Linked DNA regions of Homo sapiens. The protein of the gene in region 6 purifies or fractionates together with the protein of the main gene of each other region. This does not show direct contact. Each region holds a gene or a part of one and is shown on either strand. Other genes may lie near its edges.

The links.
Region 1: the proteins of INF2 (region 6) and ERF purify together in Homo sapiens (co-immunoprecipitation; 2 studies listed by BioGRID and IntAct, with this or other methods). This does not show direct contact.
Region 2: the proteins of INF2 (region 6) and TUBGCP6 purify together in Homo sapiens (affinity purification with mass spectrometry; one large-scale study listed by BioGRID and IntAct). This does not show direct contact.
Region 3: the proteins of INF2 (region 6) and ARHGEF10 purify together in Homo sapiens (affinity purification with mass spectrometry; one large-scale study listed by BioGRID and IntAct). This does not show direct contact.
Region 4: the proteins of INF2 (region 6) and ZNF195 purify together in Homo sapiens (affinity purification with mass spectrometry; one large-scale study listed by BioGRID and IntAct). This does not show direct contact.
Region 5: the proteins of INF2 (region 6) and PPFIBP1 purify together in Homo sapiens (affinity purification with mass spectrometry; one large-scale study listed by BioGRID and IntAct). This does not show direct contact.
Region 7: the proteins of INF2 (region 6) and VPS41 purify together in Homo sapiens (affinity purification with mass spectrometry; one large-scale study listed by BioGRID and IntAct). This does not show direct contact.

Annotation. Positions count from the first base shown.
Region 1 is NC_000019.10:42,247,069-42,249,598, forward strand, and holds the end of ERF (ETS domain-containing transcription factor ERF), read right to left. Parts: coding exon 1,397-2,530; 3' UTR 501-1,396; downstream 1-500. UniProt on the Homo sapiens protein: Potent transcriptional repressor that binds to the H1 element of the Ets2 promoter. May regulate other genes involved in cellular proliferation.
Region 2 is NC_000022.11:50,235,024-50,238,523, forward strand, and holds part of TUBGCP6 (gamma-tubulin complex component 6), read right to left. Parts: intron 1-3,500. UniProt on the Homo sapiens protein: Component of the gamma-tubulin ring complex (gTuRC) which mediates microtubule nucleation.
Region 3 is NC_000008.11:1,822,704-1,826,725, reverse strand, and holds the start of ARHGEF10 (rho guanine nucleotide exchange factor 10), read right to left. Parts: upstream 2,801-4,022; 5' UTR 2,613-2,800; intron 680-2,612; exon of another isoform or gene 616-679; coding exon of another isoform or gene 591-615; intron 1-590. UniProt on the Homo sapiens protein: May play a role in developmental myelination of peripheral nerves.
Region 4 is NC_000011.10:3,372,647-3,376,146, forward strand, and holds part of ZNF195 (zinc finger protein 195), read right to left. Parts: intron 1,030-3,500; exon of another isoform or gene 946-1,029; coding exon of another isoform or gene 931-945; intron 1-930. UniProt on the Homo sapiens protein: May be involved in transcriptional regulation.
Region 5 is NC_000012.12:27,677,706-27,681,205, reverse strand, and holds part of PPFIBP1 (liprin-beta-1), read right to left. Parts: intron 1,718-3,500; coding exon 1,567-1,717; intron 1,274-1,566; coding exon 1,145-1,273; intron 1-1,144. UniProt on the Homo sapiens protein: May regulate the disassembly of focal adhesions. Did not bind receptor-like tyrosine phosphatases type 2A.
Region 6 is NC_000014.9:104,717,118-104,720,617, reverse strand, and holds part of INF2 (inverted formin-2), read right to left. Parts: intron 3,056-3,500; coding exon of another isoform or gene 2,972-3,055; intron 1,824-2,971; coding exon of another isoform or gene 1,795-1,823; 3' UTR 1-1,794.
Region 7 is NC_000007.14:38,724,192-38,727,691, forward strand, and holds part of VPS41 (vacuolar protein sorting-associated protein 41 homolog), read right to left. Parts: intron 2,798-3,500; coding exon 2,718-2,797; intron 2,136-2,717; coding exon 2,055-2,135; 3' UTR 1-2,054. UniProt on the Homo sapiens protein: Plays a role in vesicle-mediated protein trafficking to lysosomal compartments including the endocytic membrane transport and autophagic pathways. Acts as a component of the HOPS endosomal tethering complex.

The DNA.
Region 1 (2,530 bases), on a different chromosome or scaffold from region 6:
CATTTCAAGAGACACCACAGGCTGTTCTCCAAAGGACTCCCAGCTGAACTCAGAGCAACAAGAGAGGGGTGTGGGCAGGGTGCGAGGGGCAGTGCAAAAGGGAGCTCCTGGTCTTCACTGGGGACCTGGGGTGTGGGAAGAATTCCTAGCCACAAGTGGGAAGGCATCCAGGCAATCAGAAGAGCAAGGGCAGTGGGGTTGTGGTGAAAAACAGTGGGAAGAGCTTTCAAGGACAAGGTCCCCATGGAACAGAGGAGCAGTCTGATGAAGCCGGCGCATGCCTGAGACCACTATCATCAAGCTCTGGGGCTCATGTGCCTCTGAGGTCAGGAGACGGTTTCCCAGGCCTGGATTTGGCCCATTCTGATTAGGGTTAGGCCCTCTATACTGATCTGGCCACAGACCCACTAGCAGCCAGGGTGGGGCCCCTCCTTCAGAATCAAGCAAAAGCTGTGGCCCTCAGGGGGCTGCACCGAGCACCTAGGACATTGATCACTGCATCCAAAGGTCCAAAGTTTTATTGTTTTGAATACATTCTCCAGCGGCCCCTCTACTCCCCCCACCCTCAGTCCCCAATACAGAATAAGGCTTGACCACAGCCCCCCACCCCACCCCAGAGGCCCCAGCTGGGAGGCAGAGGGGGCTTCCAGTTTGGTTTCAGGGCACCCCCTTCCCATCCCCCCACCCGCCTGCCCATGGGCCAGTCCTAGGAGCAGCTGGGGATGAAGGGGTTGGACCGGTGCTGGGGTGGGGAGTGGGAGAGGGATAGCAGGCACTTGTAGAGATTTGTGGCCCATGGGCGGCACCCCTCACCCTCCTCCGCCCCCCACCCCCCAACACATGGAATTTTTGGTTCATTATAAAATTGTCCCTCCCTCCCCTGCTGTGACCTTGTGGGGTATGAGAAACCTAGGCACTCATGGCCCCCTGGAGGGGCAGGGCAGGCAGGGCTGGGGCTGAGGAGGGCTGGGAGTGGGGCAGAGCGGGTGGGTCAGAGGGGTACAAGAGGCAGAGAACAGGGAGGGAGACAAGGCTTTACTTCCTAAGCGATTGTAATAGAAAAGTTCCTGGGTGTTAAGGCCAAAGCCTCAATTCAAATATAAATTCCCCAGAATGGAGGTGACCCCCTTAACTTCCCCCTCCCTCCCCCTACCACCACTTTGCCCAGAGCTTAGAAACCCACAGAGACAGGGAATAGCCCCTAGCCCTGGGCACCCACCCACCCCCACCATTTTTAAAAAAAAGAAATTAAAGTTTTATACAAAATGTGGGGAGGGAAAAGGGAGGAGGCAGGGAAGAGACAAGAGAGCTGCCCTCACCTCCAGGGCATAGGGGGCTTAAGGCAGCAAAAGAAGCATGGGGGGTGCGGGGCACACAGGTCCCCTGCCCACAGCCCTCAGGAGTCTCGGTGCTCCAGGGAGAGCTGGGCCGTGGCATGCTGGAGGTCAGAGCTCACCCGCCTTGGGGTGAGGGGCCCCCCAGCCTCCCCAGGCCCCTCCCCACGCACCTTCTTGTCCTCACCCTCATCCTCAAAGCCCCCAGCGGGGCCCCCACCCCCTTCGAGGCGACAGTCTTCACTCCAGCGCCGCTTAAAGCGTAGCTTGAGGGGCATGCACTGGGATGCCCCGGGTGCCTCGCCGGGCTCAGGCTTAGGGGGTGCAGGTGGGGCACGGGGCGTCTTGAACACCTCCCCGTCTTCCTCATCCTCATCACTGATGTCAGTCACCTCTACCTCCTCCGACTCGCCTTCCGAGATGGGCTCCACCTTGATCTGTGGTGGCGGGGGCGGTGGGGCTAGCGCCCCTGCCCCCTCAGCCAGCCCGCCTGCACTGCCACCGCTCTTGTCAGCACCGGCTACGGCCTTCTCCCCAGCTGCCCGCTGCCGGCGTCCGAGTGGGGGCGGCTGGAGCTTAAACTTGAATGGGGAGGAAGAAGAAGAAGAGGATGACGAGGCCGAGGAGGGGACCGGTGGGGTCTCGGGTGCCATGGGCGGCAGCGGGCACTTGTCAGGGCGCTGGGGCTGGGGCACCACCAGCCCAGGGTAGTGCAGGAAGGCGCGGGGGCTGAGGTGGTAGTTGTAGACGCTTTGGGTGTGGGCCTGCAGGTACCGTTTCATGTCCTCAGGGCTGAAGGAGAAGTGGGAGCCTCCCCCTGAGCCGCTGGGCCCCCCGCCACCACTGGGGTACATCGGGCTCAGCGTGGGCGAGGGAGTGTAGGCCAGGTGGGTGGGCGTCATGGGCAGAGCCGGGGAGAGCTGAGGGGGCAGCAGGGATCCAGGACCGGCCAGAGGCGACACAGGGAAGGGGCTGAGGGGTTCAGGGCCACCCCGAGGCCGGGGATAGACTCGGAAGACACCAGGGTCATGGGGCAGGCGGGCCAGCGGGGGCCCTCGGAAGGCACCCAGATCCGGAGGGCCGGGTGGTCGGGCGCGGGGATCCTCTCCCAGCGGTTCCTCCAGCTCTGACGTGCCATCACTACAGTCACTGACTGAGCCTCGGCCCAGGCGGCGGGCCACCACAGCCGAGAAGAG
Region 2 (3,500 bases), on a different chromosome or scaffold from region 6:
CCTGTCCACGGCAGCATCAGCCACACCCCTGTCCACAGCAGTATCCACACCCCTGTCCATGGGAACATCATCCACAACCCTATCCACTGCAGCATCATCCACACCCGTGTCCATGGCAGCATCCACACCCCAGTCCATGGCAGCATCTACACCCCTATTCACGGCAGCATCATCCACATCCCTGTCCACGGCAGCATCATCCACACTCCTGTCCATGGCAGCATCCACATCCCTGTCCACGGCAACATCCACATGCCTATCCACATGCCTGTCCACGGCAACATCCACATGCCTGTCCACAGCAGCATCCACACCCCCGTCCACGGCAACAACATCCACAACAGCCAGGGGGAGAGGAGCCTGAGCCCCCAACAGAGGAGGATAAACACAGACCGTCCGTGCAGACCCCTGCCCATCATTCAGCCTTAAAAAGGAAGGCAGCTCAGACACGTGCTCCAGAAGGCACGGCACTCAAGGACGCCGTGTGGAGTGCAATGAGCCATCACAAAACACTGTCTCCACAGGGACGGCGCTCGAGGACGCCAAGTGGAGTAAAATGAGCCATCACAAAACACTGTGCAACTCCACTTACATGAGGTCCCTACAGTGGCCAAAATCCTAGAGACAGAAAGTGGAGGCCAGGTGCGGTGGCTCATGCCTATAATCCCAACACTTTGGGAGGCCAAGAAAGGCAGATCACGAGGTCAGGAGTTCAAGACCAGCCTGGCCAACATGGTGAAACCCTGACTCTACTAAAAACACAAAAATTAGCTGGGCGTGGTGGCGGGCATCTGTAATCCCAGCTGCTCAGGAGGCTAAGGCAGGAGAATGGCTTGAACCCGGGAGGTGGAGGTTGCAGTGAGCCAAGATCGTGCCACTGCACTCCAGCTTGAGCAACAGAGCAAGACTCCATCTCGGAAAAAAAAAAAAAAAAAGTGGAGTGAATGGGGAGCTGTTTAATGGGTTCAGAGTTTCCTGCAGACTTGCTGTGCAGCAGTGAAAATACACACAGCATTACAAAGCTGTACAACTGGTTAAGACGGTAAAAACATTATATAAATTTTACTGCCCCACCTCAGAAAAACCGTAAGAGATGGATACAGAAAAAAAAATTCACAATTTTTTTTTTTGAGACGGAGTCTCGCTCTGTCACCCAGGCTGGAGTGCAGTGGCACGATCTTGGCCCATTGCAACCTCTGCCTGCTGGGTTCACACCATTCTCCTGCCTCAGCCTCCCGAGTAGCTGGGACTACAGGCACGGGCCACCATGCCTGGCTAATTTTTTGTATTTTTAGCAGAGATGGGGTTTCACCGTGTTAGCCAGGATGGTCTCGATCTCTTGACCTCGTGATCCGCCCACCTCAGCCTCCCAAAGTGCTGGGATTACAGGCGTGAGCCACTGCACCTGGCTAAGTTCACAAATTTTTAAGACAGTAACAGGTAAGGTGGGCTGGTACAGGCAGCCCTGGGCACATGCAACTCTGAGGAAATTTGCCTTCTGCTGGTGCTGAGGCTGTGAAACCACATGTACTGGCACTACACACACTCACACCCCCGTCCTCCCTGCGAAAACAATCAGCTCCAAGAAACACACTTTTACTGGCCACCTCTGCTATGAAGAGGGTGGGCTGGAGGGGGCAGGAGGAAGGAGACCAGCCCTGAGATGTCCAGTCAGCAGGTGGGGCCGCTCTGGACCCCAGACGCCTGCCCAGGCTCCCTCAGGATGAGATGAGCATGAGAAAGACACAGCCTCTCAGAGCCTCTGTCTGCCCCCTGCATTTCTTCCTGCAGATGGCCTCGGCAGGGGTGCAGGCTGTGGGCACAACCCTGTTTCCCCCTGCAGCCACTTCCACCCCATCTCCTCCAGGACTGGCCCCCAGCACTGCCATGGCTGCACACCCCTCTTGGTGACTCAGAACTGAGGGAAAAAAAGCCCACAGCGGAAACACAAAGACACAGCGCAGGATCCTGCAGGCTCTGGAGTGAACACCCCCCGCCCCAACAGGTCCCCAGAGAGAACACAACCCAAAATGTAGCAAAATGCTTCCCCCAGATGGGTGGCACATGCAGAGAAAGAGACCATTCCAGGGTCTGAAAGGCCTCCCTCCGCCTTAACCCAGCCCTTGCAGCTCAGCAGCAGGGAGGGCCGTGAGCAGTCGGACAATGGTGGTTCTCAGGGTGGGCAACAGCAGGGGCGAGTGGCCCCCCGTGGGGTCTTGGGACCTGTGGGAAAGCAGGGTTGATGTCTTGGAGAGTGGAGAAGGCTCAATTTCTGGCTAGGCGGCAGTTTCTTTAGCCACCTGCTGGTCAGAGCTCATCACAGCAGGAAACTAGCAGGTGGCTGGGATTTAAAATGAAACAAGACCAAACGATTTGCCAAAGGAACTTGAACCACAGCATCAGGCTGACCCGACTGCAGTGTCAGGGGCCGTGGGATCAGGGAGTAGAGGGGCCCAGGAGACGTAAACTCAGGTCCAGCCACTGTGTGGCCCTGTGCAGGTCAGCCACTGGACACTGAGATGACCACAGCACTTTCACTCTGCAGGGCCCTGGGCAGAGAAAGTCCCTACAGGAGCTGCCCAGGCTGTGCTCAGCACACTGCCAGGCACACAGCAGCACCTCCCTATAGGAACCACCGCCAGGCCCCACCGTGCCGGAGCTCCGCAGCCTAGGAACCACCGCCGGGCCCCACCGTGCGGGAGCTCCGCAGTCTCCAGCGTATTCAGAACAGGGTGATGAGGAGAGTGAGTGACCATGTCTCCTCATCAGCAACCCGAAAAAATGAACCTAGAAAAGGGGGAGTTAATAAATGAAATACAGCCAGCACGGTGGCTCATGCCTGTAATCCCAGCACTTTGGGAGGCCGAGGCGGGTGGATCACCTGACGGTGGGAGTTCAAGACCAGCCTGACCAACATGGAGAAACACCATCTCTACTAAAAACACAAAATTAGCCAGGCGTGGTGTCCCATGCCTGTAATCCCACTGTAATCCCAGCTACTTGGGAAGCTGAGGCAGGAGAATCGCTTGAACCCAGGAGGCAGAGGTTGCAGTGAGCCAAGATTGCGCCATTGCACTCCAGCCTGGGCAACAAGGACAAAGAAAGAAAAAGAAAAGAGAGAGAGAGAGAGAGAGACAGACAGACAGACTTATGAGGGAGAGTTTGGGGGACCTAGTTTGTTTAGGATGAAAGGAGTTGCCTAATTATGGTGAGCTGAAGAATGTTCCAGGTGAAGGGAACCTGGTGTTGGAAGGTTCTGAGTTTTTACAAAAATTAGCTGGGCATGGTGGCAGGTGCCTGTAATCCCAGCTACTCAGGAGGCTGAGACAGGGAGAATTACTTGAACCCGGGAGGCGGAGGTTGCAGTGAGCTGGAGATGGTGCCACTGCACTCCAGCCTGGGCAACAGAACAAGACTCCGCCTCAATAAATAAATAAATACAAAAAAAAAACAGAAAAAAATACTATTAGCAGACATGTACAGAATAAAGCAATAACTTG
Region 3 (4,022 bases), on a different chromosome or scaffold from region 6:
ACAGCGCTTTCTTACATCTCACTATGACGTTTTCACATCGCTTACAGAATACAACCGTCATTAGCGCATTTCCAGTTTGCTCTAATTTATGCCAAACATCTTTGTTTTAAGCAGCACTTCCCCATACAACGCCTTCTAGCAACTTCGTAAGTGAGCACCCTCAAGTCCCGTGAGAAGTCTGGACTCACAGGGCCAGGGAAAAGCTTCCCCACCTCAACCCAGGTCTGTAACTCCACACCCTCCACACCACCCAACGCCTCTATCTACAACTCACACACGCGCACACACACACACACAAAGCGCACACACACACAGCACACACACAAACACACGCACACACAAACGCACACACATGCATACAAACACAAACACATACACAAAGACACACGCACACGTATGCACACACAAACTGCAGAGGAAAGGCAGCACACCAAAGCACCCAGAAGACAAATGTGGTTACATCTGGAAGTCAAGCATCAACTTTTAAAAACATAAAAAGCTATTCTGAATAACTTTTAACTTCACTTCACCCCCAACTGTCTACAACTAATGAATTACAAATAGCACCTTATACAAATGACTTTTCTTACTGCTGAGAAATCCTGGAGGTCTCATCTGTCTATAAAGAGTTATGCATCCGTAACTGCCGATGTTGGCTGCTAAAGCCAGCAAATAAATGCTGTGAGAGACAGACAGGGACAAAGTGTGTTTTTAAAAATACATGACGTGTAAACCTCAGTAATCATCTCTCTTTTCGAATAAAAATTATTTTCTATAAAGCAGGTGTTCAAAACATATTATTAATCAGCAACAGTGAAATTGTTCCTCCTTGCAGCATTCCACCCATATGGACATTAAGTCACTCCTGCACAGAATCTAGAATACTGACCAGTCCGTACTCAGGTTATGGTTAACCAGAGAAAAGAATTAAAACCCGTTACATCTTGAGTCAATGAGAATTTTTACTTGCAGCCAAAGTTAGTGACTGGAATCAATATCAGACAACAGCAAGTTCGTCTACTGCTGCCTGGGAACATGACCTACTGGCCACAGTCGGGAGGGGTACTCAGACCTCACCTTCAGTGCCCAGGGGCCCATGGAAGGGGAGTGGGGCTGGGACAGGTGGGCAGGGCGTCTGTGGACCTAGGGCAGTTTCCTCAGAATCTACCTTGGCTTCTTGGGCACCAGCGGGCTGTGGGGTGCAGGGGAACAGGTGGAGTACGGGGGGGACAGCTGGGGTGCGAGGGACAGCTGGGGTGCAGGGTAAACAGGTGAGGTGTAGGGGGACAGGTGAGGTGCAGAGGACAGGTGGGGATCAGGGGGACAGGTGGGGTGCAGGACAGTTGAGGTGCAGGGGACAGGTGGGGTTCAGGGAGAGAGGTGGGGTGCGAGGACAGGTGGGGTGCGGGGGAACAGGTGGGGTACGGGGAGACAGGTGGGGTGCGGGGGGACAGGTGGGGTGCAGGTGAACAGGTGGGGTGCGGGGGACAGGTGGGGTGCGGGGGGACAGGTGGGGTGCGGGGGGACAGGTGGGGTGCGGGGGGACAGGTGGAGTGCGGGGGGACAGGTGGGGTGCGGGGGGACAGGTGGGGTGCGGGGGGACAGGTGAGGTGCAGGGGGGACAGGTGGGGTGCGGGGGGACAGGTGGAGTGCGGGGGGACAGGTGGAGTGCGGGTGAACAGGTGGGGTGTGGGGGGACAGCTGGGGTGCAGAGTAAACAGGTGGGGTGTGGGGAGGACAGGTGGGGTGCGAGGGGACAGGTGGGGTGCGGGGAACTGGTGGAGTGCAGAGTTAACATGGGGTGCTGAGGGACAGGCGGGGTACACGGGGTGCGGGGAACTGGTGGGGTGTGGGGGGACAGCTGGGGTGCAGAGTAAACAGGTGGGGTGTGGGGAAGACAGGTGGGGTGCAGGGGGAACAGGTGGGGTGCGAGGGGACAGGTGGGGTGCAGAATAAACAGGTAGGGTGCGGGGGGACAGGCGGGGTGCGGGGGAATAGGTGGGGTGTGGGGGGGACAGCTGCGGCGCGGGGGACAGCTGGGGTGCAGGGTAAACAGGTGGGGTGCGGGGGGACAGCTGGGGTGCGGGGAACTGGTGGAGTGCAGAGTGAACAGGGGGTGCTGAGGGACAGGCGGGGTACACGGGGTGCGGGGAACTGGTGGGGTAGGGGGACAGGTAGGGTGCGGGGGAAAGACGCCGGCTTTCCTTACACCGGTCCTTCTCTGCATCCTGAGGCGGACCGCATTCTTCTCCTTTACCGGAAAATCTAAGTTACTGCACGACCCCCCAGGCGAAGCCAGCTCGCCCCTCGGGCTCCTTCCGCCGATCGGAGTTCGCTCCTGCCCCTGGGGCCAGGGGTCCCTGCTGCCAGTCCCTGCTCCCCCCGCCCAGGCCCGCGCCGTTATCCTGAGGGGCCGGGGGCGCCGCGGAAGGGGGAGCTGCTCGGGGGGAGGGGGTCTCAGCCCCTTCCCTGAAACATCTGCGCAGGGGGTCGGGGGCGCAGCCACCTCCGGGTGGGACCCAGCGATTTCGGGGGAGCCGGGCAGAAGTGCAACTCTCAAAGGAAACCAGAAGCCCGCGAGGGGACCCACGGTCCGCGGGGCCCGCACTCACCTCGGCGGCCAGGACGCGACCCGCAGTCCCCTGCTGTTCCCCGCCGTCCCCCGCTGTTCCCCGCCGTCCCCCGCTGTTCCCCGCCGTCCCCCGCCGTTCCCCGCCGTCCCCCGCGTCCCCCGCGTCCCCCGCGACCCCGTCCGTCCCGGATCGCGCGCCCGCCGGCTACAGGGATGCGCCCAGCCCCTCCCGCCCGGACGGCCTGCTCCACCCACCATGCTGTCATTGGCGGGCCCAGACCGTTCCGGGCGCCCATTGGCCGCAGAGCCTGCCGGTTTCTCGGCAGCGCCCTGCCCTCGCGCCCGCGCATTCCTTCGAGGCCACGTGGCCGCCCGCGCCCCCTCCCGCTGCCCAACGCCCGGCCCAGGCTGCGCACGCGTGGGAGGGGGCGCGCGGCAGAGGCTCCCGCCCCCGGATCATCTCCTGCCCCGCGGACCCCGGGCCGCGCTCACTTCGGGAGGGGTCGCTGGGCAGACCGAGTGCCCTCCCCGCCCCCAACATCTGGATCCTCCCCGCAGAGCCTGCTCCCGGCTCAGAGCTGCGCCCCTTGGGGAGGGTGCGCCGGGCAGACCCTAACCCTCTCCCAGAGCACCGCCCTTTCTGCGGACCCCCACGGGCTGAGCTCACCTGAGGGAGGGGGCGTCGGGCAGACGCTCCCCCCCCCAGAACATCGCCCCTCCCTGCGGACACCCGGGGTGCGCCCAGCCGAGGAGGGGGCGTCGGGACCCCACCCGACCCGCCCTTGAGCCCCCGTCCCTCCGTCCGCAGCTGGCCCTGCCCACAGGGCGTTCCGGGTCTTCCGCGCCAGCTGCCCTGGACCAGCCAAGGCTTGGGCGTTTGGAAATGCGATGACTTCAGCCACGTTTCCGAGGCAGTTTTTGAAGCTTGCTTCTTGCCAGGAAGCGCTCGTTTTTCCCGGGACCTTTCCAGGGAATGGCCCCTTCTGAGTTATTGGAATTGTTTACTTTGAGCATTTATTTGTCTTATACTTTTAAAAAGGAAACAGATTATCGTTATAATTACTATTAAAGAAAAAAAAAAACGAGAAACAAAGACATTTTTAACCAAAATAACTAAAGGATGTTATCTTTTACCTGGTCAGCACATTTAACAAGTGTGTTCGCAGATGCTAGATTTATTTCTATGCCTTCTCCTACCCAAATCTCCGAATCATAGAAGTAATTTTAAGTCAGTGTTTTAGAACTGTCAGACTTCTTAGAGATTTCTAGCCCCTTTCACTTGTTTTATAGAAGAAATACAAACAGCTATTTGGGATGCTAAGTATCACGAAATTAATCTAAACATTAACTGCCCTTAAGGCTTGTGTGCTCTGGAATAAGTTATTTCCCTGAAAATTTTGGACTATGTAAAAATCATAGCCAACATAGAAAGACTACAATGGCTGGAAAA
Region 4 (3,500 bases), on a different chromosome or scaffold from region 6:
ATCTCCCAGGTTCTGACAAATAAATATCTCCTATGTTCTGACAAATATCTCCCAGGTTCTGACAAATATCTCCCAGGTTCTGTAATCTGTTTTCTTTTGTCTTGAGACTGAGTCTCACTCTGTAGCCCAGGCTGGAGTGCAGTGGCGCGATCTCGGCTCACTGCTACCTCTGCCTCCCTGGTTCAGGCAATTCTCGTCCCTCAGCCTCCGGAGTAGATGGAACTACCCACATGTGCCACCACGCTTGGATAATTTTTGTATTTTTTTAGTAGAGATGGGGTTTCACCATGTTGGTCAGGCTGGTCTCGAACTCCTGGCCCCAAGCGATCTGCCCACCTAGGCCTCCCAAAGTGTTGGGATTATAGGCATGAGCCACCATGCCCAGCAGTAATCTCTAATAGTGTATTAAAAGAGTCTTTCTTTAGCATTCTAAAAAGCAAGTGTCTTTTCATTTTTCTCTTTTCCAGAATGCTTTGAGTTATTCTGAGAGATAAATGTCATCTGGTTTAAATGTTTATTTTCTTAGTCCTGTTCTGCATGCAGCTTATGGAGCATCCAGATGAAACCTAAAGAGTGCACATTTCCCTTCTTTGCTGATATCCAAAAACCCACCCCATCCTCAAGAGGAATCCTGGGTATCCACAAGTTCAGTGCCACGAAGTGAACTTTTTAATACTGCAGGTCATAAAGTCATGGTAAGAATTCTTCATGGCATATAAGAAGTCAAGGTGAAGATAACAGAGAGACGGCTTTGGTATATAGAAAACAAATATTTTCAGAGACCCTTCATTATTATAAGAAAAAAAAGTAGTTGAAACAAACTTACTATGGAGAAACACCACAAGTAGAGAAGTAAAGGTTTCCAAATTCTAAACACATGACATTTCAGGAGCAAAAGTGGACACAACCCCTGACCTGAGATGCATTTACCTGAGCACCAGCCATTTCTTTCTCTTTCTCCTGCTTCTCTGGGATTTCCTCTTAGGAAAGATTCTCTGGACAAATCACACCTGCATCGTGAGAATATGCCTTTAAAGGTGTTAGCACAACCCCTTCACCTGCTACCACCACAACCATCAACAGAAAGACCAAGAAATACAGAAAAAGTCCACGCTTTTCTGTTCTTTATAAAAGAGATTCAGGAACAGTAAACTTCTACATGGAGATCAAAATGTGACTTTCTCTCTTCCTGCTCTCAGGTTCCCTCTCCTGCTAAACAACAGCAATTCTGCTTCAGCAATTGGAGTATAAGCTGCACTGAGCTGGCCTCTGAAACCTAGGCAAAGAAGGCCCTGTGACCTCCCTTTGGAACCAAGGCTGAGCTCAACTCGTACAAATGCATCTGAAACCCCCCATCACTGATTCTGGCCACACCTTAGAATCCCATGATGCATGTGACTTAAACAGCACTGGTGCTTCCACCCAAACCAATAGGCAGAATCTGTGAGGGCAAAGGTGAGGGCCTTTTTTTGAGTTGTCCATGTGATTTAATTAGAAGCCAGGCTGAGAACCATTTAGCTAAGCCTTGCTTCTCAAGCTTCAATGTGCATATGAATCTTTTGGTAATTTTGGCCCCACTCTAAGTCATGTGATTCTGAAGATTTCAAAGGGGTTCATGGGTTGGATTTTTTAACAGTTCTGCCATTAATGGTGATGCTGCTCCCCCAAGACTTGTGATCATTAACACTCAGCTAAAGAAAGCAGCCCCAGCACAGTCCCTTACACCCAACCCTCTGACCACAACATAAGTTCTTCTGGTGCAAATGGAGACAGCCAATCTCTATTCTGAAAGATTACATTATTTCCTGGCTCTTTAAAGTTTTCCAGGGCTGGAGAAGGAAGCAATGTCTGAGTCTGTCTGCATTTGGAAAACAATGTGTACACACGTATGAATGCAGTGTTTATTAAGCAGGCACGGGGTGCTCGGATGTATGTGACAGCACTGTGCTGGGCACCTCACGTCATGTGAGTTAATCCTCACCACACCCTGGGTGATGGAACCAAGTGTCCTGCAACTCTCAAGATATAGATGAAGGGACCAGGCTTTGTGGTTCCTCTTCTATTTTCCTATCATTAACGTTTTAAAAGTGTAGTGATAAAAGCTCCAGATAGACCAATGGAAGGGATACAGAGGGGATGAAGTGTAGTGCAAAGGCACTTTCCATTGTTGTGTTTATCTTCACTTTCTTGTGGCTTGTGAAGCAACTATTAGACCCACAGGACTGAGAAAGAGCTTGCTGGATACGATGTCTCTAACAGCGCTGGTGTTAGTAAAAAAGAAAAATTAAGGCTCCAAAATAGAGAGTCCTTTGATCCCATTTATCTGCTTTGGGGTTTCCGAAAATTCTGTGTATCAGTTCCGGAGAGGCAGCAGGAGTCAAACTCTGATTTAACTCTGTAGTTAAACTCCAAACTGATTTAACTCTGTAGCTAAACCCAAAACTCTGATTTAATTCTGTAGTTAACTCTGTCGGAGGAGAGTCCAGGGTGAAGCCAGACCTGGATGAGACTCAGAGAAGGAGAGTCTGGGCATGTCTGGGCAGGGAGAGGGCCCTACGCAGGATTCTGCTCTCTATGCTACTAGAGTATTTACAATTCTGTTTTTCCTAAAACTGCCCCCCACCCCAAAATTTAAATCCCAGGGTTTGTATAATTTTAATCTATTTTGGCCACTTCCTTGTCTATTTTATAACATAAAATAACAAGCAATTTAACCGAAACCTTTAGGATTTTCTAGGACAGATATGGTAGAAGCTAAATATTTATTTTTAGCCGGGCAAAAGCAACAGAAATAATACCACCACCACCTTGTCTGTCTGAATATCCCTTCAATATGACATCAGAACTCACAACAACCACATCAGGAAAATGGCCCAAATGAAGCAGAAGTCCCTTTGACCACTCCCTTCTTCATGCTGACCCCAAGACGCTGAATTCAATGATTTATCCAGTTACTGGAAATGGAAAAGTTTCTGGCTTGCGGGGACCATGGCTGCCTTCTCTGTTTTCCTAATGGCTACACAGGATGGAATCAATTAGTTTATCAGTTTGAATCTCCAGATCTCATTTTTGTTTTTTACTGAAGTACCAGAAAAACTGGAGTAATTCCCATGTGGATACCAATGAGGTTTCTTCTCTGAGGGGAGGAACAAACCCTGGGTGACTCATTTCTCTTATTCTACAACAGAAGCACAGATAGACCGTTTTGTCAGCCTGAGCCCCGTCTGCACAGTGCACTCCTGAATGTCCAAAAGACTCCAGGTGCTGGTGAGAGAGTTCCTGGTGACCCTGCACAGATGCCCTCTATGGCCATGAGATCCATGATAGTTGCTACCTTCTCCCTGTTGCAATCCTCCTTTAGAGTTCAATAACTTCCTATCTAAAGCTAAATTTATTTTATTTGACGAAGTCTAGAAACAGCCCCAGGATAATAACGATTCCATACCCAGGAAGTCCTCCCCAGCTTCCTTCCATCCCAACTCTAACTGCATCTGCCTGTG
Region 5 (3,500 bases), on a different chromosome or scaffold from region 6:
GACTGAAAGAAACTTAAGTCTAATTTGAACTAACTTTAGCAGAATTATGGTTTCTTTCCATATGGTAACCAATGAGAAGAGGGCAATATGTTGTCACTGAGTGTAGGAAACAATCAAAGCAAAATTCCTGTTTTCTTTTACTTAGATACACAAATAGTGTTCTTGTTCCGGGGTGGGGGCAGGGTGCGGAGGGGAAGATGAATGGTTTTTTTTAAATAGTACAAGGAGCTCTACTGTGTTCAAAGACAACATATGGCAAATGAAACTGTTTGGTATTTGAAGAAGGCCAAAGAGAGTTTCCTCCTTGATGTAACCTATGTCCAGTGTTCCACCTGTATGGGAGGGGCTATATGTAAAGGGTTTCTAGTCAGTCTATTATACTGTTAAAAGATTTGGTATCAATGTCTTGTACTTTATGTTTGCCAACCCCACCCTCTTATGCACAGTGAGTCAATGTAGTAGTTCTAAGCCAGCCCTAAACTTTGGTTAAGAGTGTCAGAGCAGTTCTTAGAATCTTAATGGATAAAATATTATATAGTCCTGATAAATACAAGGATTCTGATAGCATTTTTGTCTTTAAGTGCTTTCATAGATTCTGTTACATGCTAATGTTTCTTGAGTAGTTATTATCTGCCAAATATTTAACACATATTAACTTATTTAACCTTCATGGTCAGCTTTTGGGGTAGGTACTAATTATGATGATGAGGAGACTGAGGCACAGGGTGTGGAAGCTGTTGCTCAAGGTCACCCAGCTGGTAGAAAGTGGTAAGGCCAGAAAGCAAATCCAAGTGGTCTGATTCTAGAACATACTCTTAACCACTATGCTATCCCATCTTTCCAAAGTTATGCTTTAGAGTACTTGTAATTACCATCTACGTAAAATTTAAGTCTGAGAGCCATTCTAACACAGATGCTGCTGACACTTTAGCTCTGGCCTCTCCCCTAGTTCGCACAGCCCTCACCTTCTGTTTGTTCATCAACCATTGACAAATTGCACGGCTCTAAAGATGATGGCCCCTTTCATTAGGCACAGCATTAAGCAATGACTTTGTTTAACCCAATGACAGTACTAATACTGCAGGACTCATGAGGCTATGATGCTTGGTAGAGATGCAAAAGTCTATCAGTTGGCTCTTCTTACCTGTTAGACTGTCCCAAGTCTCGAGACCAACCTAATCGGGGCCCCGCGGTTGCCCTTGTCCCTCCTCTTTTGAATTCAGGCTCAGACATGTCATCTGGGTTGAATGTAGTTGATTGACTTCTCCTAAGTCTAAAGAAGACAACACACATGGCCAGTATTAGACCTGAGGAGGCCTTAGACTTGTTAATCAGAACATTTTTAACTAGTGCACCTACTGGAACTAATCCTCTTTGTGTTGTTAACATAGACATTTAAATTTAAACTTTAACTAAGACCCAATGAGTTAATAAATCCCACATCACAATCCAAACTTCCTTCCATAAGAGGAATACAAAGGCCTTACAAAGTCCATACCCATGTCCAGCCACTTTTAAGCAACATGTAAGACAGGGCCCATTCCACTTGTTTACTGCTTTACTTACTTTCCAAAGAGTTTCATGATACCTCTGGATTTCTTTTTGGAATCTGGAGATGGAGGCGGTATCTGGAAGGGACTGTTCCTCTGTGAATCTTTTGGCCGAGAAGAAGCACCAGCCAGATCTAGGTGCTCTGCTGTCTCTTTTTCTGTTTCAGCTACTCCAAGAGCAGAATGCAGACAATGAATTTTAAAATATGGAATAAACATGATGTTAATCTTCTTGGTTCTAGAACTGTTAAGAATTCTTCTGTTGGTCTATAATCAGTGACTTACAAAGAGCACCTTGTAAATATTAGAAATGGAACACACATATACGTTCTGCTCCATAGTTTACTGTGTGTAAACTTAATAAAATTACAAGCCCTTTGGAGATTAAAAGAATGTGATAGGATTGCCACATTCTTTCCTTGAGTGATTTCAATTCATAATGGAATTATTCCCAATCTTTCCATAGCACGTGGTACTGTTGATTACCTGCTACATCCTTCAAAATCATCTCCTTTTGCTTCTTGACATGACCACTCTCCTACATCTGTCATCTGATAGTGTCTTTGCTGTAGCACCCCTGCTTTTTTTTCTTCCCCCATGCCACTTTAAGATTATATTCTAAATGCCCTCTAGAGGATCAGAATCTCTGGGCCTAATCTCTCTCTCTAGGCTCTGTATCTAAATGCCTGTGATATTCCCAATTCAGTGTGTCGGGACATCTGGGACTTCACAAACTCATCCAATTTCCCCGAGAGTCTTTTTCTCTCTTAAATGTTTTTTTTTTTTTTTTTTTTTTTTTGAGACAGAGTCTCACTCTGTTTCCCAGGCTGGAGTGCAGTGACATGATCTCGGCTTACTGCAACCTCCGCCTACTGGGTTCAAGCAATTCTCTGCCTCAGTGTCCCAGGTAGCTGGGATTACAGGCACCCGCCACCACACCTGGCTAATTTTTGTATTTTTAGTAGAGACAGGGTTTCACCATCTTGGCCAGGCTGGTCTTGAACTCCTGACCTCGTGATCCACCCACCTCGGCCTCCCAAAGTGCTGAGATTACAGGCGTGAGCCACCACGCCTGGCCTCGTCTCTTAAATGTTCTTATTTGATATTTGGTTAATATTAATTAATACTGTCCCTGTTACTCTAGCTCAGACTCTATGTCATTTTCCTTTTACTCCTTCTCCTTTGGCATTTACATCAAATCAGTTACCCAGTTCAAGCAATTCTTTATTTTTGAAATGTATTCCAATCTATTAAATCCTAGGCACTGAGAGAAGAATGAACTGGATATGCCTAATTTTTCTTTTGACATAAAGTAAGTGCCTGTTGATTTTACCTTAAAAGAATCACATCCACAGTTGCCACTCTCAGATCTCCAAGCATTAACTATTTCAGTTCTTTTAGCTGTCCCTTAGTGGACAATCCCATACTAGCAAACACAAGGGCTACTGTTGTCTTCAGTGTGAGATTTTATACTTTATAAAAGAAAGTAAAAGTTGTACTAAAATCACAAGAACAGTGTTTCAGCAAGATCTATGAGTTGCAGAAAGTTGATTTTTCTACAAAGCAGAGCTGTGATTATAGGTTATAATAAGCAGCATTTACCTCTTAGCATTAACAAAACAGTTCTTCTAAGAAAGATGCAAAAAAAAACTATTTGAAAATAGTTGTCTGAACAGATCAGTTTATTTTATGCATCCAGTGTTCATTCTAGACATTTATATCGATAGAGAGAGAAGTCCCGTTTGCTGGTCCATGTGAATAGATAGGTGGATATCTATACAAGGTAACAGCACCTTTTGGAAAAACCCAAAGGAACTTTCCCAATTCAAATCCTTCAACCACGATGGCTACAGGTGCCCCTGAAAATGCTGCCTAGCTTATCCTCATCTTAAAACTACCATATTTCTCTTTTTTATTTTGAGAACTTTTTTCCCCATTTGTCCCCTGCCT
Region 6 (3,500 bases):
AGGACGACGCAGACGTGCACAGCAGCATCCACACGAGACTACGCAGACGTCCACAGCAGCATCCACACGAGACTACGCAGACGTTCACAGCAGCATCCACACGAGACTACGCAGATGTCCACAGCAGCATCCACACGAGGACGACGCAGACGTCCACAGCAGCATCCACACGAGACTACGCAGACGTCCACAGCAGCATCCACACGAGGACGACGCAGACGTCCACAGCAGCATCCACACGAGGACGACGCAGACGTCCACAGCAGCATCCACACGAGGACTACGCAAATGTCCACAGCAGCAGGATTCACAGAAGCCCCAAACTGGAAGCAACCCAGATGTCCATGGACAGAAGAGCAGACAAACAAAATGTGGTCCCTGCATGCAATGGAATGTGCTTCAGCCATGAAATGGAATGAAGTCCTGATACAGCCTGCCGTGAGGATGGCGCGTGAAAACAGCCGAAGGAAGCCAGGAGACATGCATGACATCTGGAGCGTCTGGAGTGCAGGTGAGTGGCTGCCAGGGCTGGGGAGGAGCACGGGGAAGGGGTCGGACTGATGGGTGCGAGAGGACTTCTTGGGGTGACGGAGAGATTCTCAAAATGGATCATTGCACAAACTTGATCTGCTGGAGAGCAAACACCACCGCAGCACACACATAACCAGGGAGTCTGGTGGTTTGTAAATTACGCCCCTGTAGAGCTGCACCCATCTCACCACTGTTGGATGCGGTTCACCACTGGGTCTGCCCTCTTCTAGATGTTTCTTACTGCCTCCTGAGGGCTCCAGGGACAGCCCCTGGCCTGGGGGACTGGGGGACCCTCAACAGTGAATGCTCACACGGTGCCTGGGGGCCCAGGGACCCCTCAACAGTGAGTGTTCACACGGGGCCTGGGGGCCCCTCAACAGTGAGTGTTCACACGGGGCCTGTCCAGCGCTCACCATGTTTGTGGGAGCCCACGTCCACCGCCCACTCCCGCAGCCTCTGAACACGACAGTCGCACACCGGGCTAGGTCTGCTTTTTATTGGCCACGCATCCAGCCGCCAGCCTCAGGGCACACACCTGGCAGGGGGCAGGCTCGGGTAGGCTGCCCTCGCTGGGTGGGCAGTGAGGGGGCAGCGGCTGCTGGGTGTCACCCTGCAGCCCCTCAGGTGGACCTGTATTGTCCCCAGGGCCTGCCCACGCTGGGCAGCTGGCACTGGGAGGGGTTTTCTGTTGATGTGATGGCCAAGTTTCAGCTGCAGGGCAGAGGCCTGGCAGTGGCAGCAAAGGCAGACCGCCCCCCACTCCAACTTCAGGGGCTGGACATGCTGGAACGGGGGCCAGACCCCATGGGAGGGGACCCTGGCCTGCCATGGCACTGCCTGCCAGCTTACCCCTGCCCAGGGCCCCCAACTCAGCCACCTCCAAGCAGTAAAGACTTGCAAAGCATTGCATTTTGATTAAACCTTGCTGGGCTGAAGGGCAGGCAGAGCTGTGGTGGACACTGGCAGGACGCAGCACCCCCCGACTGGCCCTTGGCAGGCTGCACCGGGCGCATGCGGGTGTGGGCCAGGGTTGCCTTTAGGAAGCAGGTGGGAGGCTGGCACGTGCAGGCGGTCCAGGAGGGCACCAGGCCTGGCAGGGCACTGGTGCCTGTCGGGTTCCCAGCCACAACACCCCAAGAAGGCTCCAGGAGGGCCCCGGCTGGGTAAGGCACGGAGTTTTGGTTTCCGGGGCCCAGTCCCAGCCTGGCCCCCAGAAGAGCCTCTCTTGGCAGAATGGCAGCATGTCCTGTGGCCTGGGCTCTCTCACTTGGCCTTGGGCCTGGGCCTGAGGCCTGTAAGAGAGAGAAAAAATGACATTATTAGGAGCAGTTTTGCTGGGTACAATATCAGGTGCCCGCTTCTGGGTGCCCAGGTCCCTGAACCCCTCATCGCCACTGTCCAGCAGGTTGTGCCATGCATCGCAGGTCCACTCTGACCCCAGGCTCTTTCTCTGGAGCAGCACAACTTATCTAGGTGGAAGGTGCCGGGCTGGCCTGGCCAGGCTGGGTTTTGGCAAGGCGTGGCAGCCTGAGCCTGTCTCCTCTCTGCTGAGATAGGGAATCTCTGTGGCCTGTCCCCCACCCCCTGTCTGAGACCCAGGCTGCACTCTGTCCTTACTCATTCATCCCCACTGCCACCCCCTGCAGCCCTCCATTGCTTCCACGTCGGGCCCTGGGCCCCACACGAGGACCCCAGCAGCGCTTTCTCCAGTGGGCTGCTGAGGGCGCTCAGCCCTGCCCCAACAGCTCCCGCCACCCAGACGGCCCCCACACATGGCCCCACAGGCCTCCTGCCCCCAACGCCCTCTTCGCTTTCTGGTCCAGGGGCCCTCGATGGCCCTTGTCTGAGTGTCACCCCCACTGCCACCACAGTGCCAGGTGGTGTCCCAGCTCCCCAGTGGGATGGCCCAAGCAGGGTTTGAGAACCACTACTCTAAACAGACAGCAAGAAAACAAAAACTATCCAAAACAATCACTCAAAGGAGGGTCTCAGCACCATTCCCCACTCAGGGAACCTGGAGAAATGGCCAAGACCAAGGCCCGTGCAGGGATGGGGGGATCAGCAAGTCTGGGGTGAGCTAGGAACAGGGGCTTGTGCCAAAGATGGGAAGCGCTCAGGGCCCCCGCTGGTCCCCATCAAATGCACGGCAGTGGCAGTGAAGGATTACTGCACGTTCAAAACTCACGTGATGGAAAAAGGGAGGGGAGGGGGGAACGCTCGGACGAGGGGCGGCGAACACAGAACCGCGCTGCAGCGGTTGGTTCCACAGGTCACCACCGGTGCTTATTAACCAGACAGCGTGGTGTTCGTGCAGTGGAGGTTCAGAAACCACCCCCGCAGCCGTGGTCAGCGCTGCTGCCACAAACGTCCCCACCCAGCTGGGGAGGACATGGCATCCCTTGGGGTAGAACTCCTGCCCCAAAACTCAACCTGGACCTACTTGGGGGCGCAATCAGGCAAACCCAAAGTGAAGTTATCTTCCAGAACGTCAATGTCATACAAGACAAAAAGGGGCAGGAATGTTCTAGAACAAAAGAGACTGAAGTGATATGATAACCAAACACAGCATGTGACTCTGGATACAATCTTGTTTGCAAAAACAACAAAGCAACAACTAGAGAAGGAATTATTGGGGCAAGTGGCACATCTGCACTGGGACCGAGTATTAGAAGCATGTGGACGTGAAGCGCCCCACAGCGGACCCTGCCCGGGGGGGACTGGGAGGACGGCAGCGCACCCTGCCCGGGGGGGCGGACTAGGAGGACGGCAGCGCGCCCTGCCCGGGGGGGGGACTGGGAGGACGGCAGCGCACCCTGCCCGGTGGGGGCGGACTGGGAGGACGGCAGCGCACCCTGCCCGGGGGGGACTGAGGAAGACGGCTGTGCTCTCAGGTGTCTGTGGGCGAGTTTAGGGCTCCAGTGCCATGATGTTTATAAGAAACTCTCAGATGCCTCAGTTGGAGGGGGGCA
Region 7 (3,500 bases), on a different chromosome or scaffold from region 6:
AGGATAATTTACCCCTGAAGCAAAATGACTTCACTGAAATTAGCAAATCCTATTGATGATCTTAAAGTAAACTTTTCTGGAAATGAGCTTGCTCAAATCATAAGTGAGGATTAATGTAAATGTAATAAACTGAATCTGTAAATTGGTAATGTTGAAAAGAAAAAACAATTGGGTAAGAACAAAACTGAAAACTAGCAGTGTAGCAGAAAGCACACTAGTCTTGGGATAAGGAAATGCTGAGAAGGCTGAGGGGTACATTCAATAATAACAAAGAGCCTTCCAGTTCTAAGTATTTGTGACTAACAACAACAAAAAAATCTGTTGTTTGCTAGAGAATTCTTAACTCTAATGTGAAGATATGTTCTGTGCATTTCCTTTGAACTTGGCCCTATGATTTCTTTTCTTTTCTTTTCTTTTTTGAGACGGAGTTTTGCTCTTGTTGCCCAGGCTGGAGTGCAATGGCGCGATCTCAGCTCACCACAACCTACGTCTCCTGGGGTCAAGTGATTCTCCTGCCTCAGCCTCCTGAGTAGCTGGGATTACAGGCATGTACCACCACGCCTGGCTAATTTGTGTTTTTAGTAGAGATGGGGTTTCTCCATGTTGGTCAGGCTGGTCTCGAACGTGCGATCTCAGGTGATCCACCTGCCAAGGCCTCCCAAAGCCCTGGGATTACGGGCGTGAGCCACCATGCCCGGCTGGCCCTGTAATTTCTTAAAGGGATCAGAAGCCCTGCTCTGAAGTTAGGCAGTCACCTCTGTGACCTCAACAACATCTCTACATTTTGCTTTCTTTATCTGTAAACCTAGGTTTATCAGATCTTCTTCCTGGCGACGCTGTGACAATTAAATGAACTGCTGCTCATGGGAATGGCTGGGTGACTTCGGTAGCTGGCATGCTGTCAGTACTCACTAGCACCCTGTCCTTTCCCCAAAAAGAAAGAAGCAGAAAGCTGTATTTGTTCCCATTTATGGGACTAAGAGATCAGGAACAATAAGGATGTGTTTTGCGCACTTTTACACTCATTAGAGGATGACCATATATCCCAAGGAAGATGAAGCCAGTAACTGTAAGACACAATTACAAGTTTGACTTTTCTCCCTCTATGATATGCTCTGTTCCATGAGGGCAATGGAGGCACCAGAGAAGGCAAGAGGAAACATCATTAGTCCGTCCTTCAGCATCAGGTGGTCCCACTGCTCCTGAGGCACCCTCAGTTTTCAGGGTCACTGGTTTCCTCCCTCCTGGCAAACTCTAGCCACAAGCGCTCAGACTCGAAGGTGTTGAACTCTCTTTTCTTCCTTACAAGGGTGCCAGAATTCTTAACTGCATTTGTTTATCCCAGTAAAAGTGAGTCCTTCACAATGAGAAGAGCTAACATTTATTCAATCAACAAATGCTGAGTGTCCGCCATGGCCAGATACTCTTTGACAGTCGTCACAGCACACAGAACATGTGATTAGTAAACATAATGGTGCAGGACATCAGCCTGCTAATGTTATTCCCAGGTGTCATCAAATGAGTGACAATTTGTACAATGTTTCATTAAATGCCTATTTAGAGGATAACCATAGTTGATGACACAGAAAAAAGCCAAACCCAGAATGCAAGAATCGTAGCCAGCAGAGCACGTGGAAACAACGTCCAAGTTGCAGGTAGCAGCTTGCAGGATAACCACAGTTGGCGACGCTTTCAGGCAGCTGGGAGAATTCTCAGTTGTCCATTTTATGGTTAAATGGTTTTACTAAGGTCTAAAAAATTCATTTCTAACTCCTAGACTTATGTTTCCATTACTATATAAAGAATGAGCCAAACAAATAAATAACAAAATATTCACTATGGACCCCAAAATTTCAAGGCATGAAGAGAGCCCCAAATTCTCTGTGAACTGCAAAGAGAAACCATTAGTACAGGAATAGATGAAGAAATTGTTTTTGAGTATAATATAAACATAAACAAATCTCTTAACAGCACGAGTGTCAACAAATGCTTTTGTTGTTGCAAAAACAGTCTCAAAAAGAGTGGTGACAAGGAGACTGACAAGGAGAAATGAGCTATTTTTTCATCTCCAAAATTGCACTTCCTGGTCCACGGTTCTTAGCACTGCAGATGTTGCAGAACTGTGCAGCAGAGTTCTAAAAATGCAATTTAAAAACACATATTTAAAAAATGATCTTCTTTTTCTACTCTCATATTCAGAAACACTAAGGTAGCGTTAGTCAGGGGGTGGAGAGGAAGTAATAGGATGGCACTCCTTTCTCTGGAGTTTATTTCTGGTTAACATAGGATTTAGTCTAGATCAGCTGTTACTCTGTGACTCCAAGGACACCCAACAGCAGAATACGTCTAATGTGACCTGGAGGAATATGACACTAAAAAAATGATAGCATCATGGAACACAAATCAGGCTGAGAAACACATAAGATACACAATGGCTCTCTACTGTTGTTGCTCATCTCTACAGCATGACAGCTGTCAACTGGGCCTGAATGAATTCCTTCAAATGGGTATGCTTTTATGTTTACTATAGTACATAGAACATTTCTAAATATTTTTACATTTGAAAACTAGATTAATTTTTGTTATGTGATATAAATCCACATTGTAATTTTTTTTTAACCCATACAGCCATAAGGATGAAGGGTTACAGTTTAAAGCACATTCCTCTAAGTGTGTTAATTTCCCTCTAGTTGATAGGTGCCAAGCTGCCAACTCACCATGCTGGGCATGGGCAGGCACTCCTTGTGGAACATGTGCCGGCAATGGAAGACCACCACGCTGAAGGGCTTAGCTGCATCTGGCGAGGAGGGCAGAGAAAGGAGGAGAACTTAATGCAACAAGCAAGATCATTTTAAACCAATCCCGACTGAAAGTCGAGTTGCAGTTTAATTTTCAGCAATAAGGTGCCTTTAGAGAATGGCTTATTTACAAAAGCATTCCTGAGGGGTGGTATGATCAGACACAAAACAGGTATTATAATCATGTTGCTATGCGATTCACAGGTTACTTGCTTAGCCTCTGTGTCACTTACCCAGACTACATTGAGGACAACTGTAGGAAAACCAGCAAGTGTATGTGCCAATGCGCCCCTAACCCCTATAATCATTATACACCACAGCTGAAGTTGAGTCTGTGGCTTCATAAAAATGCTTTGCCAGTCCACCTGCTACCTTTGCCAAGACCACACACTGACTCAGAGGCGGACCTGGGTTACAAGCCCAGGCTGTGGTGACCTTGCATTTTACTGCACTTGTGCTTGGGCAGATCCCCTCATCTGTTCCTGCTCTGTGTGGCCAGCTTATTTTTGGTAAGATTTAGTGTCATCAGCAGAGTAAATTTGGAGTTAAATCTAACTGTAGAGTGGGAATGTATGTGGTTCCTTTTTGCTGCAACACTGTCTGAAATGCTATGGAAGCTCACTTCTTCACCTGAGCCCATGCAGTTTTCAACAGAAGCACTTAAACATCCAAATCTAATTCCTCTAGAAAAGAACCTAAGTA